Homo sapiens: one gene and its partners. The protein of the gene in region 1 binds, or shares a complex with, the protein of each later gene. Each region holds a gene or a part of one and is shown on either strand. Other genes may lie near its edges. The genes, in order: AURKA, TACC3 and TPX2.

The links.
Region 2: the proteins of AURKA (region 1) and TACC3 are in contact, whole or in part, in a crystal structure (PDB 5ODT), measured with the Homo sapiens proteins. Residues at the interface, in NP_001310232.1 of Homo sapiens: Leu130, Phe133, Glu134, Ile135, Gly136, Arg137, Tyr148, Leu149, Ala150, Arg151, Ile158, Val163, Arg205, Tyr207; in NP_001428248.1 of Homo sapiens: Glu523, Ser524, Phe525, Arg526, Pro528, Val531, Leu532, Gly533.
Region 3: the proteins of AURKA (region 1) and TPX2 are in contact, whole or in part, in a crystal structure (PDB 3HA6), measured with the Homo sapiens proteins. Residues at the interface, in NP_001310232.1 of Homo sapiens: Lys125, Arg126, Gln127, Trp128, Asp132, Glu152, Gln154, Ser155, Phe157, Leu159, Lys166, Glu170, Gly173, Glu175, Leu178, Arg179, Val182, Glu183, Ile184, Ser186, His187, Leu188, Arg189, Tyr197, Gly198, Tyr199, His201, Val206, Tyr246, Ser249; in NP_036244.2 of Homo sapiens: Gln3, Lys5, Ser6, Ser7, Tyr8, Ser9, Tyr10, Asp11, Ala12, Pro13, Ser14, Asp15, Phe16, Ile17, Phe19, Ser20, Ile31, Asp32, Trp34, Phe35, Glu36, Lys38, Ala39.

What each region holds. Positions count from the first base shown.
Region 1 is NC_000020.11:56,389,132-56,396,909, reverse strand, and holds the start of AURKA (aurora kinase A), read left to right. Parts: upstream 1-4,694; 5' UTR 4,695-4,742; exon of another isoform or gene 4,743-5,119; intron 5,120-6,244; exon of another isoform or gene 6,245-6,354; intron 6,355-7,778. Other genes in the region: CSTF1 (cleavage stimulation factor subunit 1), read right to left, coding at 1,189-1,357. UniProt on the Homo sapiens protein: Mitotic serine/threonine kinase that contributes to the regulation of cell cycle progression.
Region 2 is NC_000004.12:1,731,521-1,738,621, forward strand, and holds part of TACC3 (transforming acidic coiled-coil-containing protein 3), read left to right. Parts: intron 1-3,752; coding exon 3,753-3,805; intron 3,806-4,210; coding exon 4,211-4,314; intron 4,315-5,720; coding exon 5,721-5,808; intron 5,809-6,077; coding exon 6,078-6,182; coding exon of another isoform or gene 6,183-6,194; intron 6,195-6,827; coding exon of another isoform or gene 6,828-6,872; exon of another isoform or gene 6,873-7,101. UniProt on the Homo sapiens protein: Plays a role in the microtubule-dependent coupling of the nucleus and the centrosome. Involved in the processes that regulate centrosome-mediated interkinetic nuclear migration (INM) of neural progenitors.
Region 3 is NC_000020.11:31,734,947-31,742,294, forward strand, and holds the start of TPX2 (targeting protein for Xklp2), read left to right. Parts: upstream 1-4,343; 5' UTR 4,344-4,675; intron 4,676-7,348. UniProt on the Homo sapiens protein: Spindle assembly factor required for normal assembly of mitotic spindles. Required for normal assembly of microtubules during apoptosis. Required for chromatin and/or kinetochore dependent microtubule nucleation.

The DNA of each region.
Region 1 (7,778 bases):
ATAGCAGTTCTGTAGTTAAATTATCCATTTTTTTCCATTCCAAATTTTAATATTTTTAGGGTTGAGATATATTAGCAGCTCTGATGCTCGTTAAGTTAGCTACATTGTTAACATGAATGCTAGTGAAATGTTTTTGAAATAAAGTTATTTAAAAAAAACTGGTTTATCAAGAATATGCATTTAAAATTTATAAATAACTTGACAAATCAAATAATATGTTGATTAGTAGAGGAAAAATTAACACTATGGATGAACAAGAAAATAAAAATGACCTTGAATTTTACCACCCAGAGATAATAACTGTTAACGTATCGGTATAAATTCTTAGGGATCCTTCCCCGTGCACGGCTGTTTTATTTTTCAAAACAGTAATAGAGCAATGCTGTGTAACATGTTGTGACTCACTTGTTCACTTAATCAAGCAGAACAAAAGTGTATCTTGGCTAATAAATATTCATCTATATAATTATGTTATAGTATTCACTTTTATGGATATTTAAAAATTTACAGCTAATTCCATGTTGTTGGCATTGCAGTTTGTCCATTTTATTTCCCCAGGAGAAATGCTCACAATTGGCACTGCCAAGTCAAAGGGTATTAACATGTTTGGTAATTCAATATTTTATTGAGTGCTTTCTATTATTAGCCAGGTAGGCTCCAGGATATACTGCTGAATAATACAAGGTCCTGATCCTTACTCAACTTGTAGTCTTTTTTGACAAGGGGGCAGCAGTAGGTGGGAAGTGTGGAGGTAAGGATCCCATGGGAAACAGCCCAAATGATAAAGGAAATTTCAAAACAACTGTTATAAAACAAATGGGATCGCTATGGCAGGGTAACCGGGAAAATGCACGAAAGGGTCGGATTATTTTAGGAGGAGTTAAGAGAACTCAGATGACATTTGATGTAAAATCTGAAGGAAGTCAGTAATATGTCTGACAGAGTGTTCCAGATAATGTGTACAAAGACCCTCAGGCCAGAACCAGCTTAAGGTCTTCATAATCTGAACTTTGCTTTACCCCTTACTTACTGAGCTACTTCCTGAACTCATGCTGAACTACTTACTTACTGAAGTACCCGGCTCATACTAGGTACTGAAACAAAACAAGAATAATCTTGAAAAATTCTGCCATATGAAAATATCTAAAACCTTGCCATGGGACGTATGGATTTGTGTTCACAATCTACCGAGTTTGATGAGATGCAGGAGCTGCTCCGAGGGTGCACACACAGACTGAGGCTTGATTTCATTGATGAGGCCATTGGCGATGCTGATGTAGCCGTCATATAGCAGCTGGCTAATGATCAGCTTGTAGAGCTGCTGGCGGTCCTTCAAGCCCACTTTGGTTCTGTACATCTTGGAGAAAAGGAAGACAGTTTCCCTGCCAGCTGCAAAAACGGAAAATGGACGGTGAAGGGTACAGGCTCTAGTAAATCACAGAAGCAACATAGGACTCTTTGGTCAGACTTAATCTTGCAGGACTCAAATCCCATCTCTACTAGCTGCATTATCTTTGGTCAGTGACCTCATTTCTCTAAGCCTGAGGTTCTTCAGCTGTTAAGTTACTGGAAGTTAAACACGGTGGTGCATATAAAGCCCTGAGCACAGTGCCTGGCATACAGAAATTGTTCAAGTCATGTTAGCCAGTGTTTACGGTACAATCTCTCACCAACTTTTCTTCTCCACCAAACTAGCTACCTATGATTTTTGTTCTTTATTGTTATCCCAGAATCTTCCATTACTTCTGTTAATTAAACATTGACTGGTACCTGCAATATGCAAGATAGCTGCTATTTTGTCAAGATCTAGACTGCTGGTTCCACTAGCTGAGCTGTATGTTTACTAATCTTTTATGCTCATTCTCAAAACCTGTTTTAAGGCAACTGAGCTTGTTACTGTAATTATATAATCTAATTAGACAGTAAATCAAAATATGAAGCAAAAAAAAGCAACTGTACTACAAAAACTCCAACCGAGTTAAATGCGTTAGAAAGGCTCAAAGGTGAGCTGCCCAATAAAATATTGCCAATCAAGGTCAAAACAATAAAAATGAAAAAAAAAACAGTAATAATCGGGAAGGATTGTGCATGCACTGACTTACAAGTGTCTAAGTTTTCCTTCAGTCTTAAGAGACAAAAAACTGTAAATGGTTTCTGGCTTATTCAAAAAAGAACTCCAACTGTTCAACATGATAATTTGCTTACCAAAAATCAATGCCTTTATGTATGTGTATGTTTGGACCAAGATTAAAAGGCTACAGGTGTCTGGGGACAGCAATAAAGAATAAAAGTGACCTCAGAGCCTGATTTCTTTTTTCTTTTTGAGACGGAGTCTCGCTCTGTCGCCCAGGCTTGAGGGCAGTGGCGCGATCTCGGCTCACTGCAACCTCCGCCTCCTGGGTTCAAGCTATTCTCCTGTCTCAGCCTCCCGAGTAGCTAAGACTACAGGCGCCCGCCACCACACCAGGCTAATTTTTGTATTTTTAGTAGAGACGGGGTTTCACCATATTGGCCAGGCTGGTCTCGAAACTCCTGACCTCAGGTGATCTGCCTGCCTCCGCCTCCCAAAGTGCTGGGATTACGGGCGCGAGCCACTGCGCCTGGCCCAGAGCCTGATTTCTTACACACTGTATGACACTGATGGTGTTAATAATAACCAATAACATTAAGCACTTCCTGCATGCCAGATACCGTCATGCTAAGTACTTTGTAAGCATCAGTTCACTGAATAAAATCATTCAATGTATTCAAGTATATGAAGTAGTACATGAACATAGTAGGTCTATGCTTGAGTAGAAAATCCTGGGACACAAATAAAGATGATGAAATGGGTTCAAGGAGGTCAGGACACCTACTCAACGTAAAAAGTGGCTGAGTTACTTGTCCAAGGTTAAAGCACACCAGAATTGCCAACTCCAGATCCCTGAGCTTAACCACTGAAGGAGTTCAGGAAATGCCAGCCCAAAACAAGATGCTTTGGCGGGCTGATTACCTTGAACTGAGGGCACCTGGAGAACAGCAGGCGGGAAGAGGCTTTCCCTGTGCTTTCCTTACCTGCCTAAAGTCTGACCCTCCAAAAATACCTCAATTGTCACGAATCCTTATAAACCAGGGAAGATTAACTCGGATCACATGAGAGATTAGAGGCTGACACCACCCAGAAGATCACCTATTCTGTCTGCATAACAAACTTGATTCACCATACATTTCCTCCGTTCACCGTCCCATAACTTGTGTTAGAGCTGCTTCCCGCCCCCCGCCCCCAATTCTCTATTCATTCCTTTCAGTAGCTCAGGATGCCATGTAGGCTTTAATCATCTGACTTCAACTTTTAGTCTCGTATTTTGTGGGACTCCTGTACGTAATTAAATATCGTTTTTCTCCCATGGACAATGTTCAGTTACCCGAAAAAAATGGGAGATTCTTAAGTACCAATAAAGAATGAAAATCACAAGTGGGTAGTCTGGCAAAGAAAAGTTGATGAGAGATTCTACTGTTAACGTTGGGTTAATATGACTCGAATAATTTCCGTATGCTAGCTCAATGCTTTACATGCACATCCTGTTTACCCTGCAGTAATCTGTTAATTCGTCTTATGTGAATTTAACTCTTAGTCCTAATAAGGTACCTGGAAGGATGGAGGGAAGCCATTTTTGGTTCCCCTACACCACTGTTCTATCCGGTCTCTTCACTTCTGCTGAGCACATCCCGGGTGTACATACACACACACACACACACATATGTGTGTGTATATATATGTATATGTGTGTGTGTGTGTATATATATATATATTTTAAGTGGCCCACCCCTAACTTCTCAACTCCCACAGAACGTTCACTCGCCAGGTAAACAGAAGCCTAATTATCCCCAATTTGCAGGTGAGCACACGAGGACAAGAACCCGATCCAGGACCGGATACATCGCAGTTGGAAAGGCTAGAACACAGATGCCCCCTCACTATATGCGCCGCGACCATCTGGATGCAGAGGCGAACTAAGGACTGGGTGGGAATGGAAGCGAGGCCCTTCGAGAAGAGGAAGGGGTGCAGGCCAAGCCGGGCAACTTAGGAAACGCAAAGTAGAGGCGCATGCCACCTTGCTAACTCTCGACTCTTCCAGTCTCGCCCCAGTCGTTTCTGTGGTTTTCTCTAAATGCCCCAGCCGACCGCACCAGCTACTCTCCCCGTGTCCCAGTACCAGCTGGTCCGGTTCTCTTGGTATCCCGCTCTCTCCTGGAAAAATGGAGGCGCGAATCCTGCCCAATCTACCGCTCCGAGCGCACGTTCACTGCGCACGCTGAAAGGGCGCCAAGCCGACCGCTGCGCTATCGATCGGTCCCACTCTCTCTTGCTTTTCTCGCCATCTTACTTACTGGCACGTTCAAAGGTTAGTTCACCTCCTTGGACTTTATCTCCAATGCGTCAAGCTTGACGTCAAGGGGCTGTTGCTTCACCGATAAATGGCCGACCGCGGAGAGCACCCTGGGGCTGGGACTGCCACAGGTCTGGCTGGCCGTTGGCTCCACCACTTCCGGGTTCTTAGGGAGCAAGTGCGCCTGCGCGCGGTGTGCGCCCTTAAACGCGACTCAAGGCGTCGGGTTTGTTGTCAACCAATCACAAGGCAGCCTCGCTCGAGCGCAGGCCAATCGGCTTTCTAGCTAGAGGGTTTAACTCCTATTTAAAAAGAAGAACCTTTGAATTCTAACGGCTGAGCTCTTGGAAGACTTGGGTCCTTGGGTCGCAGGTGGGAGCCGACGGGTGGGTAGACCGTGGGGGATATCTCAGTGGCGGACGAGGACGGCGGGGACAAGGGGCGGCTGGTCGGAGTGGCGGAGCGTCAAGTCCCCTGTCGGTTCCTCCGTCCCTGAGTGTCCTTGGCGCTGCCTTGTGCCCGCCCAGCGCCTTTGCATCCGCTCCTGGGCACCGAGGCGCCCTGTAGGATACTGCTTGTTACTTATTACAGCTAGAGGTACAAGGGGTTTGTTGAGTGGTGTTGACATGCGCGGGAGGGGTGGGTGGGCTTCAGATTGGATTTTGTCCTCCGAGATCACCTGGGTAAGAAAAGCACAGAAGGTCTCTGCTGTGTTGGAGTTCACGTTCTAGTGGGTGGGGAGACAGACGGTAAGCGTACGGAGAACTTGCAGCTGGGGTGGGTGTTACAGAGGAAAAGCAGGAGTGCGGTTTAACGGGGGCCGCTTTAGATAGAATAGCCTAAGAAGGCCCTTGTCCTGGCTGGATGAGTGGGTGAATTGATGAATGAGAACCTCCTTGCAGAGGCCTTCCCGGTCCGTACTTCTCAGACCGTAGACCTTGGAGCAGTTGTACCGGGATAACTTGCAGTGCTTGTTAAACATATAGCTCCACCGAGAGCCCGGTAAATCAGAATCTCTGAGGGGTAGGACCCAGGTGTCTAGTTATTAACAAACTCTCCAGATGATTCTTAGGTTTCATTGAGAACTAGGGATGCAGACCGGTGCATACAAATCGTCTGGGGACGTTAAAATGCAGAATCTGTTTTTTTAGACCTGGGGTTAGGCCTCAGAGTCTCCATTTCTAAGAACCATCCGGCTGAGGTAGACGTAGCCACTGTCCTTAACTCTCGTAATGTCTCTTCCTCTTCCGTAACCTTCCTTGTCCCTTGAATTAAACGTTTTTCAGCAACCTACTCAGTTCGTCCTTCCCTTCATCTCTGCAGACATGCACAGGTCTGAGGGAGGAAGGAATAAACCGTATAAACCTCCTGCGCTATTAGCCTAACAGCTTTTCTATTCAAAATAGTAGGACTTCTGGTTTGAACTGAATGGATCCTGTGAAAGTCATCTGGTTCTTCAATCTGGTTGCAGATTAGAGTCACCTGAAGGGCAGTCTCCTTGGCGTTGTCTCCAGAATTCTGGATTAGAATCTTATTCCATTCTGCTTGTTATTCAATTTCCCTAGAAAGAAAGGTAGAATAAATTGGAGCAAATGCCTGTAGCTTCTGTCAGAAGAATGTTGAATAAATGTTGTTAGGCCTATGTGATCTCATTAGACTGCTACTTAGAATTGTAAGGGAAGTAAAGCATTAGAGCATGTGTGAAATTAAATATTTGATTAACACAAGTGTGCATTTCCTTGTTGCTGTTTATCAACTTTTACTTACCCACTGTTTTTTTATAAGGGCTGCAGCCTGTAGTCTGGGCCTGGCTTCATCATGGAATTATTTGCTTAATTGTAAAATGGTAATCTTAATTTTTTTTTTTGAGACAGGGTCTCACTCCATTGCCCAGGCCAGAGTGCGGGGATATTTGATAAGAAACTTCAGTGAAGGCCGGGCGCGGTGGCTCATGCCCGTAATCCCAGCATTTTCGGAGGCCGAGGTGGGTGGATCACCTGAGGTCGGGAGTTCCAGACCAGCCCTACCAACATAGAGAAACCCTGTCTCTACTAAAAATACAAAATCAGCTGGGCGTGGTGGTGCATGTCTGTAATCCCAGCTACTCTGGAGGCTGAGGCAGGAGAATTGCTTGAACCCAGGAGGTGGAGGTTGCGGGTGAGCCGAGATTGCGCCATTGCACTCCAGCCTGGGCAACAAGAGCAAACTCTATCTCAAAAAAAAAAAAAAAGAAACCTCAGTGAAATGAAAGACTGAACTACACACCTGGGGGAAAAGCGTAATAAAGGGAGCAAGAAGTGCAAATGCTTATGGCAGGGGACTTATTTGCAGAAAGAAAGCCTTGTGTGGCTGGTACACGGTTGACAAGAAGAGGAGATGAAGTCAGAGAGGTAGTTAGGGTCCATGTTCTGTGAGACTTCAATAGGCCTGTCTATGCAGGTTAGGAGTTTGCATTGTTTTGATTGAGTTGGGAGCCATGGGGGTCTTCTGAACTGAGGATCAACACATCTGATTTGTTAATGAGATTGCCGGCCTCAGTGTTAAGAATGGACCATGACAGGGTAAGGGTGGAAGTGGGGAGGCCATTGGGAGGCTGTTGGAAAAAACTCAAGGGAGAGAGAATAATGGTTTGACCAGGTGGTAGTAGTAGAGGTGGTGAGCAGTGATCTTGAAGGCAGAGCCTACAGAATATGCTGGTGGATTAAATGAAGGGTTTGCGAGAGAGAACCTCGTAAAGGGTTATTATGCCAAGGCTTTTGGCCTGAGCAACTGACAGGATGGGTTTGCCATGCACTGAGATGAGGATGTCTAGAGACTAGATTTGGGGAGGTGAGAGTGGGGAGAGATTAGGACTTCTGTTTGGGACATGTTAGAATGGAGATGCCGCTCAGATAATCAGGTGCAGATGTTGCATAGAAAGTAGAAAATGTAGATCAAGAGTTCAGGGGAGAGGTCTGGGCTGAAGAATGAATATTTGGGAGTCCTCAGCCTGTAGATGGTACTGAAAGCAAAGAGACTGGATGTACTCGGCTAGGGAGTAATTGGAGATGGAGAAGTCATTCTAGGCCTGAGCTCAGGGCACACCCATGAACAGGGAGGTGAGAAGTGGAGAAGGGAAGAGGTTCAGTTTTGGATATGTTAGGATTGAGGTGCCTGGCAGACATTTTTGGGAGATCCTGGGCAAATCCTTGGATATCCAAGTCTGACAGTCCAAGGAGAGACTAGGGCAGAAGACGCACTTTGAGTGGTCCTCATGAAGGCATTTAGAGCTGAGGCACTGGGTGATATGGATCCCTGGTGAAGGTGTAGATGGAGAAGTGGAGGGTCCAGGGACTCGTTCTTGAGTCACCCCAGACCCTTGATCTGGCAAAAATGAGACTGACCCAGCAAGGAGGGAAAGACAGGACG
Region 2 (7,101 bases), on another chromosome or scaffold:
TGGAAACTGTAGACTCAGGAAAATGAGCAGGAGAGGTGAACAATGCAGTGCGCTAATGAGATACAAGTGTAGAGTCAACAACTGGATACTCGATCATCAGAAATACTGCTTGAAACGACCTTCTTTTTTTTTTCTGAGATAGTCTCGCTCTGTCACCCAGCCTGGAATGCAGTGGCACAATCTGGGTTCAATGCAACCTCCACTTCCCAGGTTCAAGAGATTCTCCTGCTCAGCCTCCCAAGTAGCTGGGATTACAAGCATGTACCACCACATCCAGCTAATTTTTGTACTTTTAGTGGCAACGGGGTTTCACCATGTTGGCCAGGCTGGTCTCAAACTCTGACCTCAAGTGATCCACCTGCCTCGGCCTCCCAAAGTGCTGGGATTGCACGCGTGAGCCCCCGCGCCCGGCCCAGAACCCCTTGATAATGAAATGTGAAGCCTGAACCTTAGACACCAGACTGCAGTTAAATACGGTTTGTCCGTAAGACTGGAGGCTGCAGTTGAATACGGTTTGTCCATAAGATTGGAGGCTGCACTTGAATACGGTTTGTCTGTAAGATTGGAGGCTGCAGTTAAACATGGTTTGTCCATAAGATTGGAGGCTGCACTTGAATACGGTTTGTCTGTAAGATTGGAGGCTGCAGTTAAATAAATACGGCTTGTCCGTAAGATTGGAGGCTGCAGTTAAATAAATACGGTTTGTCCGTAAGATTGGAGGCTGCAGTTAAATAAATACGGTTTGTCCGTAAGATTGGAGGCTGCAGTTAAATAAATACGGTTTGTCCGTAAGATTGGAGGCTGCAGTTGAATACGGTTTGTCCGTAAGATTGGAGGCTGCAGTTGAATACGGTTTGTCCGTAAGATTGGAGGCTGCAGTTAAATAAATACAGTTTGTCCGTAAGATTGGAGGCTGCAGTTAAATAAATACGGTTTGTCCGTAAGATTGGAAGGTGGAACGGTCCTTAAATTAAAGTGCATTTGGTAGGAATTGATGGCTGAGTTGTTTTAAAGGACACACAGCCAGGTGGGTATAAGATCTCAATTTAGAGAACTGAAAACCCAGGCACACAGCAGACACGAATGGCATGTAGGGTTTGTCGCTGACAGGATAGTTGTGGGCCGCCACCATGTGGGGATATCAGCTCAGCTGGGATGGGCCTGTCACCCTCACGCAGGATCCCTGGAATCACACAGCACGGCCTTCTGTGTCCGGCGTCTCCCTCGGGGAGGTGTGTTTCCGAGTCCTGGCCATGCTGGAGCAGGTGTGGGTGCTCCTGTCCTTGCCGTGGCAGCTTGGCTTCACATCATCTTATCCATTCATTCATGGATTTGCTGGTTTCTGCTTTTTAGCTGTCAGGAGTAGTGCTGCCTCGAATGTTCAGGTGTAAGTTCTATGTGGATGTATTCTTCCATTTCTCCTGGATACATAGCTAGGAGTGGAGTCGCTGGTCACAGTAACTCTGCTCACCTTTTAGCTACCAGGTGGCCTTCCAGAGTGGCTGCAGTGTTTCACATTCCCACTGGCAGTTATAAGAGAGCTCCAGTTTCTCCACATCCTCGCCAGCGCTGCTTGTCTGTCTTGTTGATCCTAGACTTCCAGCGGGTGGGAAGCGGATCTGGTTGCGGTTTTGATTTGCAGTTCCCAGGTGGCTCATGAACGAGCGTCTTTTTATGTGCTCGTTGGATATCTTCTTTGGGAAAGTGTCTGTCGAGATCCCTTGTCCATTGAGCCACTTATGTTTTTATTACTGAGTTTTAAGAGGTAAATCCCTTTTATTCAAGAAGTGAGGGAAAGGAAAAAATACAAAGTTAAGTCCCTTATCAGATGATGTTTCAAAGTATTGGCTTTTGGCCAGGCATAGGGGCCCACACTTGTAATCTCAGCATTTTGCGGGGCCGAGGCAGGATTGTTTGAGCCCTGTAGTTTGAGACTAACCTGGGCAACATGGCAAGACCTCATCTCTACCAAAAAAAACCTTTTTTTTTATTACCTGGCATGGTGGCGTACACCTATAGTCCCAGCTGCTCGGGAAGCTGAGATGGGAGGCTCGCTTGAGCCAGGAGGTCAAGGCTGCAGTGAGCCATGATTGCACTACTGCACTCCAGTCTGGGCGACAGCGAGACCCTATCTGAAGGAAAGAAAAAAAAGGCAGAAATGAAAACTGACAACAAGGCTAGGTGCGGTGGCTCACGCCCGTAATCCTAGCACTTTGGGAGGCTGAGGAGGGCGAATCACCTGAGATCAAGAGTTTGAGATCAGCCTGGCCAACATGGTGAAACCTCATCTCTACTAAAAATACAAAAATTAGCTGGGTGTGTTGGCACATGCCTGTAATCCTAGCTACTTGGGAGGCTGAGGCGGGAGAATCGCTTGAACCCAGGAGGCGGAGGTTGCAGTGAGCCGAGATGGCGCCACCGCACTCCACCTGAGCAACAGAGCAAGACTCTGTCTCAAAAAAAAAAAAAAGAAAAGAAAACTGACAAGGCCATAGCAGAGAAGGACCTACAAGTTTTTGCTAGACTAAATAATTGGCAACCGTTTTTTAGCTTAATTGAGAAAAGGAGAGAATGAGCAAATACTGCTAGGCATGAAGAAAGGGACAAAACTAGAGATGCCTCAGCCTGGATCTCAGCCAGATCAAGACCCTGTCTTAAAGTACCAGTTTGGTTTGTTTTTTTCCCGAGACGGAGTCTTGCTCTGTCGCCCAGGCTGGAGTGCAGTAGCATGATCTCAGCTTGTTGCAACCTCCGCCTCCTGGGTTCAAGCGATTCTCCTGCCTCAGCCTCCCAAGTAGCTGGGATTACAGGCTCATGCCACCGTGCCCAACTAATTTTTGCATTTTTCGTAGAGACAGGGTTTCCCCATGTTGGCCAGGCTGGCCTCAAACTCCTGACCTCAGGTGATCCACCTGCCTTGGCCTCCCAAAGTGCTGGGATTACAGATGTGAGCTACTGCGCCCAGCCACAGTTTAAGAGTTTTATAGTTTTAGAGGCCGAGACCGGAGGATCACTTGAAGTCAGGAGTTCAAGACCAGCCCTGGCAACGTAGCAAGACTCCTCCTCTACCAAAACAAAAAGTAGGATAGTTTTAACTCTCACAGTTAGGGTGTTGATCCATTCTGAGTTAATCTTTGTATGTGGTATGAGGCACCTTTTCTTTTTTTTTGCAACAGTTTTCCCTCCGCTGCCCAGGTTGGAGTGCAGTGGCATAATCTCAGCTCAGTGCAGCCTCCACCTCCCAGGCTCAAGGAGTTCTCCTGCCTCAGCCTCCCTGTAATAGGAGTGCAGCACCGCGCCTAGCTAATTTTTGTATTTTTTGTACAGACAAGGTTTTGCCCTGTTGAACTCCTGGGCTCAAGTGATCCACTCGCCTCAGCCTCCACCCTTAGTTTTAATCAAAAGTTATATTATCAAAAATTAAAAGACTTGTCTAGGGTAATTTTAAAGACTAATAGTTCTCAACCAGAGCAGTTTTGCCCCCGCCTTTCCCCAGATGTTTGTGGTTGTCACACCTGGAGGTGCTGCTGGCAGGGAGTGGGTAGAGGCTGGGGATGCCGCTCAGCACCCTGCGGTGCCCAGGAGGCGCCTGCCGCAGACAGCAGTCAGGCCCCGAACATCCACACCTCCAAGGGAGGAAATACTGCTGGCTGGAATGATCCTGCCTCACTGAGTGCTGAGGGAGACACCAGCCCGCCGCCCTTAGGGCCCTGGTGAGGGGCGATGGCGGCGGCATGATTCACTCCTCTCAGTTCTAGGCACGGGCGCGGAGGTGGATTACCTGGAGCAGTTTGGAACTTCCTCGGTAGGTACCAGGCAATTCCGCGAAGCCTCACCCACAGGGTGTCCGAGAGCAGCCACGGCAGGTCTTGCCCCCGGAGCGTCCCTTGGTGCCCACGTCCCCCCAGCTGCACACAGGCCCAGGCATTGTGGCGGGCTGTGAATCCAGGGCCCCTTCTGCAGCACCTCCTCTAAGTGGTGTCCTGTGGCAGGGCTCTAGGGCTCTCTACCTGGTGCCTAGCCCAGGATGAAACTCTGACACGCTGTGCTGCTGGGAATGGTGGTGTCTCGGGCAGGGTTGTGGGTGACCGGGGGTGGGAGTGTGCGGGTGACCGGGGGTGGGAGTGTGCAGGTGACCTCCCTGGCCCTTAGCCCCCGTGTGTGTTAGGGGATGGCAGTCAGACCTGATCACTTGCCCTCTTGTCCCCAGTTTAAGGAGTCGGCCTTGAGGAAGCAGTCCTTATACCTCAAGTTCGACCCCCTCCTGAGGGACAGTCCTGGTAGACCAGTGCCCGTGGCCACCGAGACCAGCAGGTATGTGCGCCGGCCCTCCCTCATGCATGAAGCCTTGAGTGTGGGAAGACTGGAGGCTGTTCCTAGGTGTGCTGTCTGCACAGAGGCTTCTAGACCGGGGGGAGATGATCAGAACTGGAAAGGAGCTGTGCTAGGGGTGGGCTGGGCAGCAAGGCCAGAGCAGCCCTTGTGTGTCTGGCAGGAGCAACGGCAGCCTACCCTCCAGCCACAGGGCTGCTGCCTTGCTGGTTACAGCCACCGTTCTAGGTATATTAAAGATCTAAACTTAAATCTTTTAAGAGTACTTCCTCTAAAACAGAGGTCGGCAGGCCAGGCGCGGTGGCTTACGCCTGTAATCCCAGCACTTTGGGAGGCCGAGGTGGATGGATAGCCTCAGCTCAGGAGTTTGCCACCAGCCTGGGCAACATGTTGAAACCCCGTCTCTACTAAAATACAAAAATTAGCCGGGTGTGACGGCATGCACCTGTAGTCTCAGCTACTTGGGAAGCCGAGGCAGGAGAATTGCTTGAACCCAGGAGGCGGAGGTTGCAGTGAGCTGAGATTGCGCCACTGCACTCCAGCCTGGGCAACAGAGTGAGACTCCATCTCAAAAAAAAAAAAAAAAAAAAAAACCAAAAAATAGAGGTCAGCAAACTATCACCTGTGGGCCAGACTTGGCCACTGCCTGTTTGTGTAAAGTTTTATCGTCACAGAGCCATGCCCGTTCCTTTGCAAATTGTGGCAACTTTCACACTACAAGGCCAGAACTGAGTAGTGTGACAGAGGCTGTGTGGCCTTCAAATCCTAACACATGGCCGGGCGCAGTGGCTCACACCTGGAATCCCAGCCCTTTGGGAGGCTGAGGCGGGTGGATCGCCTGAGGTCAGGAGTTTGAGACCAGCCTGGCCAACATAGTGAACCCCCATCTCTACTAAAAATAACAAAAATTAGCCGGGTGAGGCGGCAGGCGCCTGTAATCCCAGCTACTTGGGTTGCTGAAGCAGGAGAATCGGGTGAGCCTGGGAGGCAGGGGTTGCAGGGAGCCGAGATCATGCCACTGCACTCCAATCTGGGTGACAGAGTGAGACCCTGTCTCGGAAAAAGAAAAAAAAAAAGGCTCTGAGCTGTGAACAGCCCCCTGATGAGGCAGCACTGGCTCCGCTCAGCCTGCAGTGGGTAATGAAGCGTCACCGTGCTCTCCCGGAAGGACAAGCAGCCACGTGGGATGGGCAGGTGAGGGAGGGGGGCACGGAGCAGCAGAGAGGCCGGGCATGCTGGATGCGGGTCTGCGTTTTCTACCACTACCCTGACTTGAGTGGTTTTAAACTAAAAAGCAAAGAGCCCGGTTAGCTTGTCCACATGGTCCTCTGTGTCCTACTCAACACTGGGAGGGCCTAGTGACTGAGGCTGCCTCTGCTTGGTGGCAGCATGCACGGTGCAAATGAGACTCCCTCAGGACGTCCGCGGGAAGCCAAGCTTGTGGAGTTCGATTTCTTGGGAGCACTGGACATTCCTGTAAGTCCTTGAGTCCCTCTTGAACTGTCTTGTGTGTGGTCTGAGGGAACGAGTTGTTTTAAGGGCCTATATTTTCTATTCCTGGGGGTCTGAGCCTTTGGTTTTGTTGGGGGCATGGGGCCGCTGTGCTGTTCCCTCGCCGCACTGTCTCGGGTCCCTCATGCACTGTCTGAGGCTCTTGGCCTGTGTGGGCCTTTCCTCCCTCACACTAGGTCAGAGGTAAGAGGCAAGGGCGAAATGGGTTCCTGTTTCATCCCCATCTCCCGCAGGTGCCAGGCCCACCCCCAGGTGTTCCCGCGCCTGGGGGCCCACCCCTGTCCACCGGACCTATAGTGGACCTGCTCCAGTACAGCCAGAAGGACCTGGATGCAGTGGTAAGGACGCAGGTAGTAGCTATTCCACAGAACCTGCAGGCCGCTCTGGGGCTTGGCCAACAGTGGGCAGGGGTCCAACAGCCTGACCCGCCATCCCTGCCATCCCTGCCCCTGCTGGTTGGGGTGGAATTGCAGAGAGCTGCCGGCCCCTGGCCTGTCACTACTGCCCAGGTCGCTGAGGGTCCAGGCTTCCACCCAGTGTCCCCGCAGTCAGCTGCCCACCAGCAGCCTCCCCGGGACTCTCCGGCCTGGGCATGGCGTTGGCCTCTGGTGGCCTTGCAGCAGTGAGTGTGGTTCTTGCTGCCGTGAGCCCGAGTGTCGCCCCTTTCCTCCCGCCCTCCCACGAGTCCAGACGCATCTCCTGGCAGCTTAGGAAGCTCCATCTTCACCCACCCCACATCTGAGGGTCCCGTGCCTTGTCTCCCTCCATCCTCACTGTACATGCCAGGCTTCAGCCTGTTCTAACTCCGGGCCTAAATTGTCCCTAAGAGAGCTGTAGGCACACAAAGGGGCTGGGTGTCTGCAGGCACCACTGTGAGCTACCGTCGCCAGATGGTCCCCAGGGAGGTGCAGACAGGGTGGTTCCGGAGGCCGGCTGGCAGGGCTGGGTTCAAGCCCCAACATCCACACCAGTGTTGTTCACAGTGGCCCCAGGTGTCATCTCCGCAGAGGCCTGTGATGTGGCCCTGACCCCGTACCCCAACAACCTCCTTCCCTGTGTCAGAGCCCGTGTGAGTAACCCAATAGCAGGCCTGGGGACCACAGTGTGGCTGGCCCCCTCCTCTGCAGGCCTGGGCTCCGGGGGCAGGTGGCCCCTGCATGTAACTTATGTTAGAAATGCACAATGCTTGTTCTCTGGTGCCACAAAGAAATAGTGCTCGAACATTAATTTTCTCAGCAAGGCAGTTTTTACTTTCTG
Region 3 (7,348 bases), about 25 Mb from region 1:
GAGGCACAAGAATTGTTTGAACCCAGGAGTCAGAAGTTGTAGTGAGCTGAGATTGTGCCACTACATGCCAGCCTGAGCGACAGACAGAGACTCTGTCTCAAAAAAAAAAAAAATAGTTGTCAATAGTTGTCCACACCCATCTATACTCCTACCTGCTGAGTTACCTTACAAATTTCTGATACTATCAAACTTTTAATTTTGGTTAATCTGATGGGTGAAAAATGGAACTTTCTTGTTTCAATTTCCTTTATTATAGTGAGGCTGAGCACCTTCATGTGTTTGATGGCCAGTTTTGTTTCTTCTTTTTTTTAGTGGAGGGTTGGGGGACAGGATCTTGCTCTGTCTCCCAGGCTGGAGTGTAGTGGCCTGATTTCAGCTCACTGCAACCTCCACCTTCCAGGTTCAGACGATCTTCCCACCTCAGCCTCTGGAGTAGCTGGGACTACAGGTGAGTACCACCATGCCCAGCTAATTTTTGTTTTTGTTTGTTTGTTTTTTTTGAGACAGAGTCTCACTCTGTCACCCAGGATGGAGTGCAATGGCATGGTCTTGGCTCACTGCAACCTCTGCCTCCTGGGTTCAAGCGATTCTCCTGCCTCAGCCTCCTGAGTAGCTGGGACTACAGGTGCGTACCACCATACCTGGCTAATTTTTGTATTTTTTGTAGAGACGGGGTTTCATTATGTTGGCCAGGCTGGTCTCAAACTCCTGACCTCGTGACCCCCCCTCCTCAGCCTCCCAAAGTGCTGGGATTACAGGCATGAGCCACTGTGCCAGGCCTATTAAGTTTTGTATTTTTTGTAGAGAAGGGGTTTTGCCATGTTGCCCAGGCTGGTCTCGAACTCCTGACCTCAAGTGATCTGCCCCCGCCCCCCACCCCCGGCCTCCTGAAGTGCTGGGATTACAGGCGTGAGCCACTGCGCCTGGCCTACTAAATTCTGATATACATGAGTTCTGGATTTTGTTTTTGTTTTTAAAGACAGGACCCAGCTCTGTCGCCCAGGCTGGAGAATCATGGCTCGCTGCAGCCTTGACCTCCCAAGCTCAAGTGATCCTCATACCTCAGCTTCTTGAGTAGCTGGGACTACAGGTACGCACCACCTCACCTGGCTAATTTTAAAAGTTTTTTGTATCTTGCCATGTTGTCCAGGCTGATTTCAAACTCCTGGCTCAAGCAATCTTCCCGCCTCTGCTTTCCAAAGTGCTAAGATTACAGGCATGAGCCACCATAACTGGCTGAGTGTGTTTCTGGACTCTTAAACTCTTCTACTGATTTCCCCCACTTTTAACTTCTACGACAATACCATACTTAAAAATACCTTTATTTATTTATTTATTTTTGAGATGGAGTTTCACTCTTGTTGCCCAGGCTGGAGTGCAATGGCGCGATCCTGGCTCACCACAACCTCCACCTCCCGGGTTCAAGCGATTCTCCTGCCTCAGACTCCCGAGTAGCTGGGATTACAGGCGCCTGCCACCATGCCCGGTTAATTTTCTATTTTTAGTAGAGACGGGGTTTCTCCATGTTGGTCAGGCTGGTCTGGAACTCCCGACCTGAGGTGATCTGGCCGCCTTGGCCTCCCAAAGTGCTGGGATTACAGGCATGAGTCACTGTGCCCAGCAAAAATACTTTTTTTTTTTTTGAGACGGAGTCTTGCTCAGTCACCCAGGCTGGAGTGCAGTGGCGCGATCTTGGCTCACTGCAAGCTCCGCCTCCCGGGTTCATGCCATTCTTCTGCCTCAGCCTCCCAAGTAGCTGGGACTACAGGCACCCGCCACCATGCCCGGCTAATTTTTTTTGTATTTTTAGTAGAGACAGGGTTTCACCGTGTTAGCCAGGATGGTCTCAGTCTCCTGACCTCGTGATCCACCCGCCTCGGTCTCCCAAAGTGCTGGGATTACAGGCGTGAGCCACCGCGCCAGGCCAAAAATACCTCTTTTTAGACAAGGTGCCATGGCTCATGCCTGTAATCCCAGCACTGTGGGAGGCTGAGGTGGGAAGATCACTTGAGTCTGGGAGGTTGGGGTTGGAGTGAGCCGTGATCCTGCCACTGCACTCCAGCCTGGGTGACAGCAAGACCCTATCTCAAAATAACAAAACAACCACCACAACAACTACCACTCCCCCATCCCTTTGTTTTTGAGGTAGAGTCTTGCTCTGTCGCCCAGGCTGGAGTGCAATGGCACCATCTTGGCTCACTGCAACCTCTGCCTCCTGGGTTTAAGTGATTCTCCTGCCTCAGCCTTCCAAGTAGCACCAGGCAACCACCCCATTTTAATTGTGGAAAATTTCAAACTCATACAAGAGTATATGTATGTATTTATGTATCATGAACCCATCACCAGGTTCAACAATTATCAATTTGTAGCTAATCTTGTTTCATCTAAATCCCCACCTACTTATCTTCACTGCCTACTCCCAATTATTTGGAAGCCAGTGCCAGAGTAATTTCATCCCTACCGTATCTATATGTATCTCTACAACACAAGGACTCTTAAAAAAGAAAACAAAAGGTGTGGTGGCTCACACCTGTAGTCCCAGCACTTGGGAGGGTGAGGCGGGGGCATCACCCGAGGTCAGGTGTTCGAGACTAGCCTGGTCAACATGGTGAAACCCCGTCTCTATCAAAAAATATAAAAATTAGCCGGGTGTGGTGGCGCATTTTTAATCCCGGGTACTTGGGAGGCTGAGGCAGGAGAAACCGGGAGGCGGAGGTTGCAGTGAGCTGAGATCACACCGTTGCACTCCAGCCTGGGCTACAAGAACGAAACTCCGTCTCAAAAAACAAAATGAAACAAAACAACAACAACAAAAAGAAAACAAAACCAAACTCTGGCAGTTTATGTTTTGAAGGAACTAAATTGTCCTGTGGTTTTCCTGTCTGGATTTTGCCGATTGCACCCCCATGGGTGTGAATTAACTGAACCATACTTTAAAAATTACTATAATTTCATGTTAATATGTACAAAATCTGTACATAAATCCCCCAATCTTTTTCAAAATTCAAGATGCCAGTACTTGTACTCTTCCATAGGAACTTTAGAATTAACTTGGCAAATTCCAGAACAGAACCCACTGGGACTTTCATTGGAATTGCCTTGACCTTTTTTTTTTTGTTTTGAGACAGAGTCTCGCTCTGTTGCCCAGGCTGGAGTGCAGTGGTGCAATCTTGGCTCACTGCAACCTCCGCCTCCTGGGTTCAAGTGATTCTCCTGCCTCAACCTCCCAAGTAGCTGTGATTACAGGCACGCGCGAGCACGCCCGGCTAATTTTTGTATTTTTAGTAGAGATGGGGGGGGGTTTCAACATTTTGGCCAGGCTGGTCTCGAACTCATCGCCTCAAGTGATCTGCCTGTCTCGGCCTCCCAAAGTGCTGGGATTACATGCGTGAGCTACCGCACCCAGCCTAGGCTTAATTTTTGAATCTTTAGCTTTTGCTGGTATTATGAAGGGGGTTGTTTTGTTGTTCTTGTTGCTGCTATTTTCTAATTGATTAAAAAAAATTAAGATGGTGGGGGTGGTCTCGTTATGATGTCTACGCTGTTCTGGAACTCTTGGTCTCAAGGGATCCTTCTGCTTTAGCCTCCTGTGGAGCTGGGATTATAGGTGAGCGCCACGAAGCCCGGCCTCTAATTAATTATCGGTGGTGTATAAAAAGAACAGACCTTCTTAATTCGAATCCCATCTTCTCCATTTATTATGTGATTTTGGACATGTTTGTTCAACTTCTCCTAGACTTTGTTTTCTTTTTACGACATGGGGATCATAAAGCCGGGATGCAGTTGGGAATAAAACCGGATAAAGCTCCCAACGAACCGCGGGTTTCATAAGATCAGGGCAGGGACTGGGTAAAAGGTTTCAAAGACTCCTGCACTATTGGGAAGGACGCTACGGGCGAGTCTATGTTGCATGCAGGCGACTCCATGTTAAGACGAAGTGAACTCCCTGAACCTTCAAGGGATAATGCACAACCATAACGAGAATAATTTTTAAAAATAGAGTTTTCTTCCCTGAAAACTTGGAGAGGTCCAGGATGCGCGCCATTCTGTGATCTAGGTTGACTCTCCACCTCTTCAGTTGGTACCACCTTTCCCAAATAGTTTGGAGCAGAGCACTCCGGTCTTTGTAATAACGTACTCCTAAGAGCTGTTCCAGTGGACTCACGCAGGCGCAGGAGACTACACTTCCCAGGAACTCCGGGCCGCGTTGTTCGCTGGTACCTCCTTCTGACTTCCGGTATTGCTGCGGTCTGTAGGGCCAATCGGGAGCCTGGAATTGCTTTCCCGGCGCTCTGATTGGTGCATTCGACTAGGCTGCCTGGGTTCAAAATTTCAACGATACTGAATGAGTCCCGCGGCGGGTTGGCTCGCGCTTCGTTGTCAGATCTGAGGCGAGGCTAGGTGAGCCGTGGGAAGAAAAGAGGGAGCAGCTAGGGCGCGGGTCTCCCTCCTCCCGGAGTTTGGAACGGCTGAAGTTCACCTTCCAGCCCCTAGCGCCGTTCGCGCCGCTAGGCCTGGCTTCTGAGGCGGTTGCGGTGCTCGGTCGCCGCCTAGGCGGGGCAGGGTGCGAGCAGGGGCTTCGGGCCACGCTTCTCTTGGCGACAGGATTTTGCTGTGAAGTCCGTCCGGGAAACGGAGGAAAAAAAGAGTTGCGGGAGGCTGTCGGCTAATAACGGTAACGATAATTATTGTTATTACCATGCTAACAGGTTATAAACATTGACTGAACTAAGCACCCTGCATGCCCGTTCTCATTTAATTTCCTCGCCAAGCCAATGTAGTTGGTGCTATTCTTGGTCCCTCTTGACAGAAACTGAGGAAGGAGGAAGGAGGAGGAAACTGAGGCCCAGAATCTAGATAAATTTCGAGAAATGGGTGATACAGTAGCCATGCCCTCAGGAAGTGTGGCGTTTGATGGAGGAAAACAGAGGTAGTCACAAATAAGTACATTTCAAAACTGTTGTCTAAAACAGGAAGATAATTAGATGGTGTGAGAACATAATTGAGGGAGAGTTTAAGTCCACTTGGAGTTGTCTTCTATTTGGGATTTAAAATTCATTATATGTTATCCATATTTGTCCAGCTCTCTTTTTGTATGGAATCACCAGATATTATTCCCTTTCTCATTTCCTTTCTCAACATTTATAGATTGGAGGGGGGAAGGAAAACCAAACCAGGTTATAATGTAGAATTGGTTTACCCCCTATTTTCTTGACATATAACGTCTGGTTTTCCACATATAATTTTCTAGTAGTTCAGTAACATGGACTCCCCCCAAATCAGGCCTACTTAGGATAGAAGAGGATTTTTGACTCCTGGATTTTGCTTTAAGACCAGCTCTTGGTTTACTTCCTGCTTCACCCTTACCTTTTCTTGACATCCTGTGGCCTCTCTTTGAATTTCTCTCACTCATCAAATGTTGTCAAAAATAGGACTACTTGCTGCTGTAGTAAGGATATTCTTGTATTGTGGCCTTAGTGTATTACATCACCCCCACGTCAGACTTGAGTCCCCCTGGTTGGTTTGGGTGAGTCAGTTCAGTATTAAGCTGGCATTCTTGGATCAAAATTATGTGGCTGTCAGCTAACTCAGCCATTTAGTTGACCTTTGAGGGTACTGTGCTCAGATTGGCATGAGATATTATGGGTGTACAGATATATGATGTACTCAAACGTTTTTTGGTATGTTTGGGGACAAAAACATGGTTTGAAATTGGCAAGTGAGAATCAGAGCAAGATAGGACACCATCTGGGTGCTCTACTGTTTTGTATTCTAGGTGTCTGGACAATTTAGAGGTGAGGGAGTTCAAGAGCCAGTTTGTGTTTCTGTGCTTCACAAAGCCACCCTTGTCTAATTCTTGATAACCAGAGTTTGGTTAGACAGGGACTGAAACAATCCTAGTGCATAGGAATCACCCACTAAATACCTGTTGAATTGAGTAGGCAGGAAGGCACTATCTGAATTGACTACAAAATTGCGGGTATGAAAAACTGGATTGTATTCAACTAGGTTGGTAAATTTGTTTAGACTTTCAAATTATCTGAATAGGGTTTATTTGGCCAACCTTATGCATAAATCTGTGTATTCCAACCTTGATAAAATTAATTTATTGCAATTAAGTTTGTCCAGGATTATGTGAGAGAGTCCTTCATTTCATTTCTTTAGTTACCAGGAGATGTTCAGGGCTCATCTACATCTCCTGGTTAATTTTCCTTCAGCTTTTTCTGTGTCTCTTCCCTAATTCTCTTTGAGTTCCTGGGAGAAAGAGGAGGGATATTTAAATGCCCTTTGACATACTTAATTTTCTTTGCTATGGGCAAAGTTAGGAAGCAAAATTGACTATAGAGTTGTTTTTTTTGTTTTTGTTTTTGTTTTTTTTTTTTGAGACGGAGTCTCACTCTGTCGCCCAGGCTGGAGTGCAGTGGCGCGATTTCAGCTCACTGCAACTTCTGCCTCCCCTGTTCAAGCAATTCTCCTACCTCAGTCTCTTGAGTAGCTGGGATTATAGGGATCTGCCACCACACCCGGCTAATTTTTGTATTTTTTTTTTGAGATGGCATCTCACTTTGTTACCTAGGCTGGAGTGCAATGGTGCGCTCTCGGCTCACTGCAACCTCCGCCTCCTGGGTTCAAGCAATTCTCCTGCCTCAGCCTCCCAAGTAGCTGGGACTACAGGCGCATGCCACCACACCCGGCTAGTTTTTTTGTATTTTTAATAGAGATGGGGTTTCACCATGTTAGCCAGGATGGTCTCAATCTCCTGACCTCGTAATCTGCCTGCCTCGGCCTCCCAAAGTGCTGGGATTACAGGTGTGAGCCACTGTGCCTGGCCTAATTTTTGTATTTTTAGTAGATACAGGGTTTCACCACGTTGGCCAGGCTAGTCTCAAACTCCTTATCTCAGGTGATCCACCTGCCTCGGCCTCCCAAAGTGCTGGGATTACAGGTGTGAGCCACCTTGCCTGGCCTTAGAGAGATTTCATAACCCAAGCGATTCTGTGAATAGATCTGTATTTGAGACAGAGATGTAGAGATCAGCAGCCCAAGGTACTCTGTGAAAAAAGGATAGATAACTGCGGAGGGCTTCCGTTTTTGTTTGTGTAGGGAAACTTGGTAAAAGGGGAATAAAGAACAGTGAGAAAAGTATAAAATTGTATCTAGAGGTTACTTTGGAAATTAAAAATAATGTTATTTGTACTTAGTAAAACAAAGTAGTAAAAGTTTGCTCTTTTTTTTTTTTTTTTTTTGAGACAGTCTCACTGTGTTGCTCAGGCTGGAGTGCACTGGCTGGCGCAATCTTGGCTCACTGAAGCTTCCGCTTCCCAGGTTCAAGCGATTCTCCTGCCTC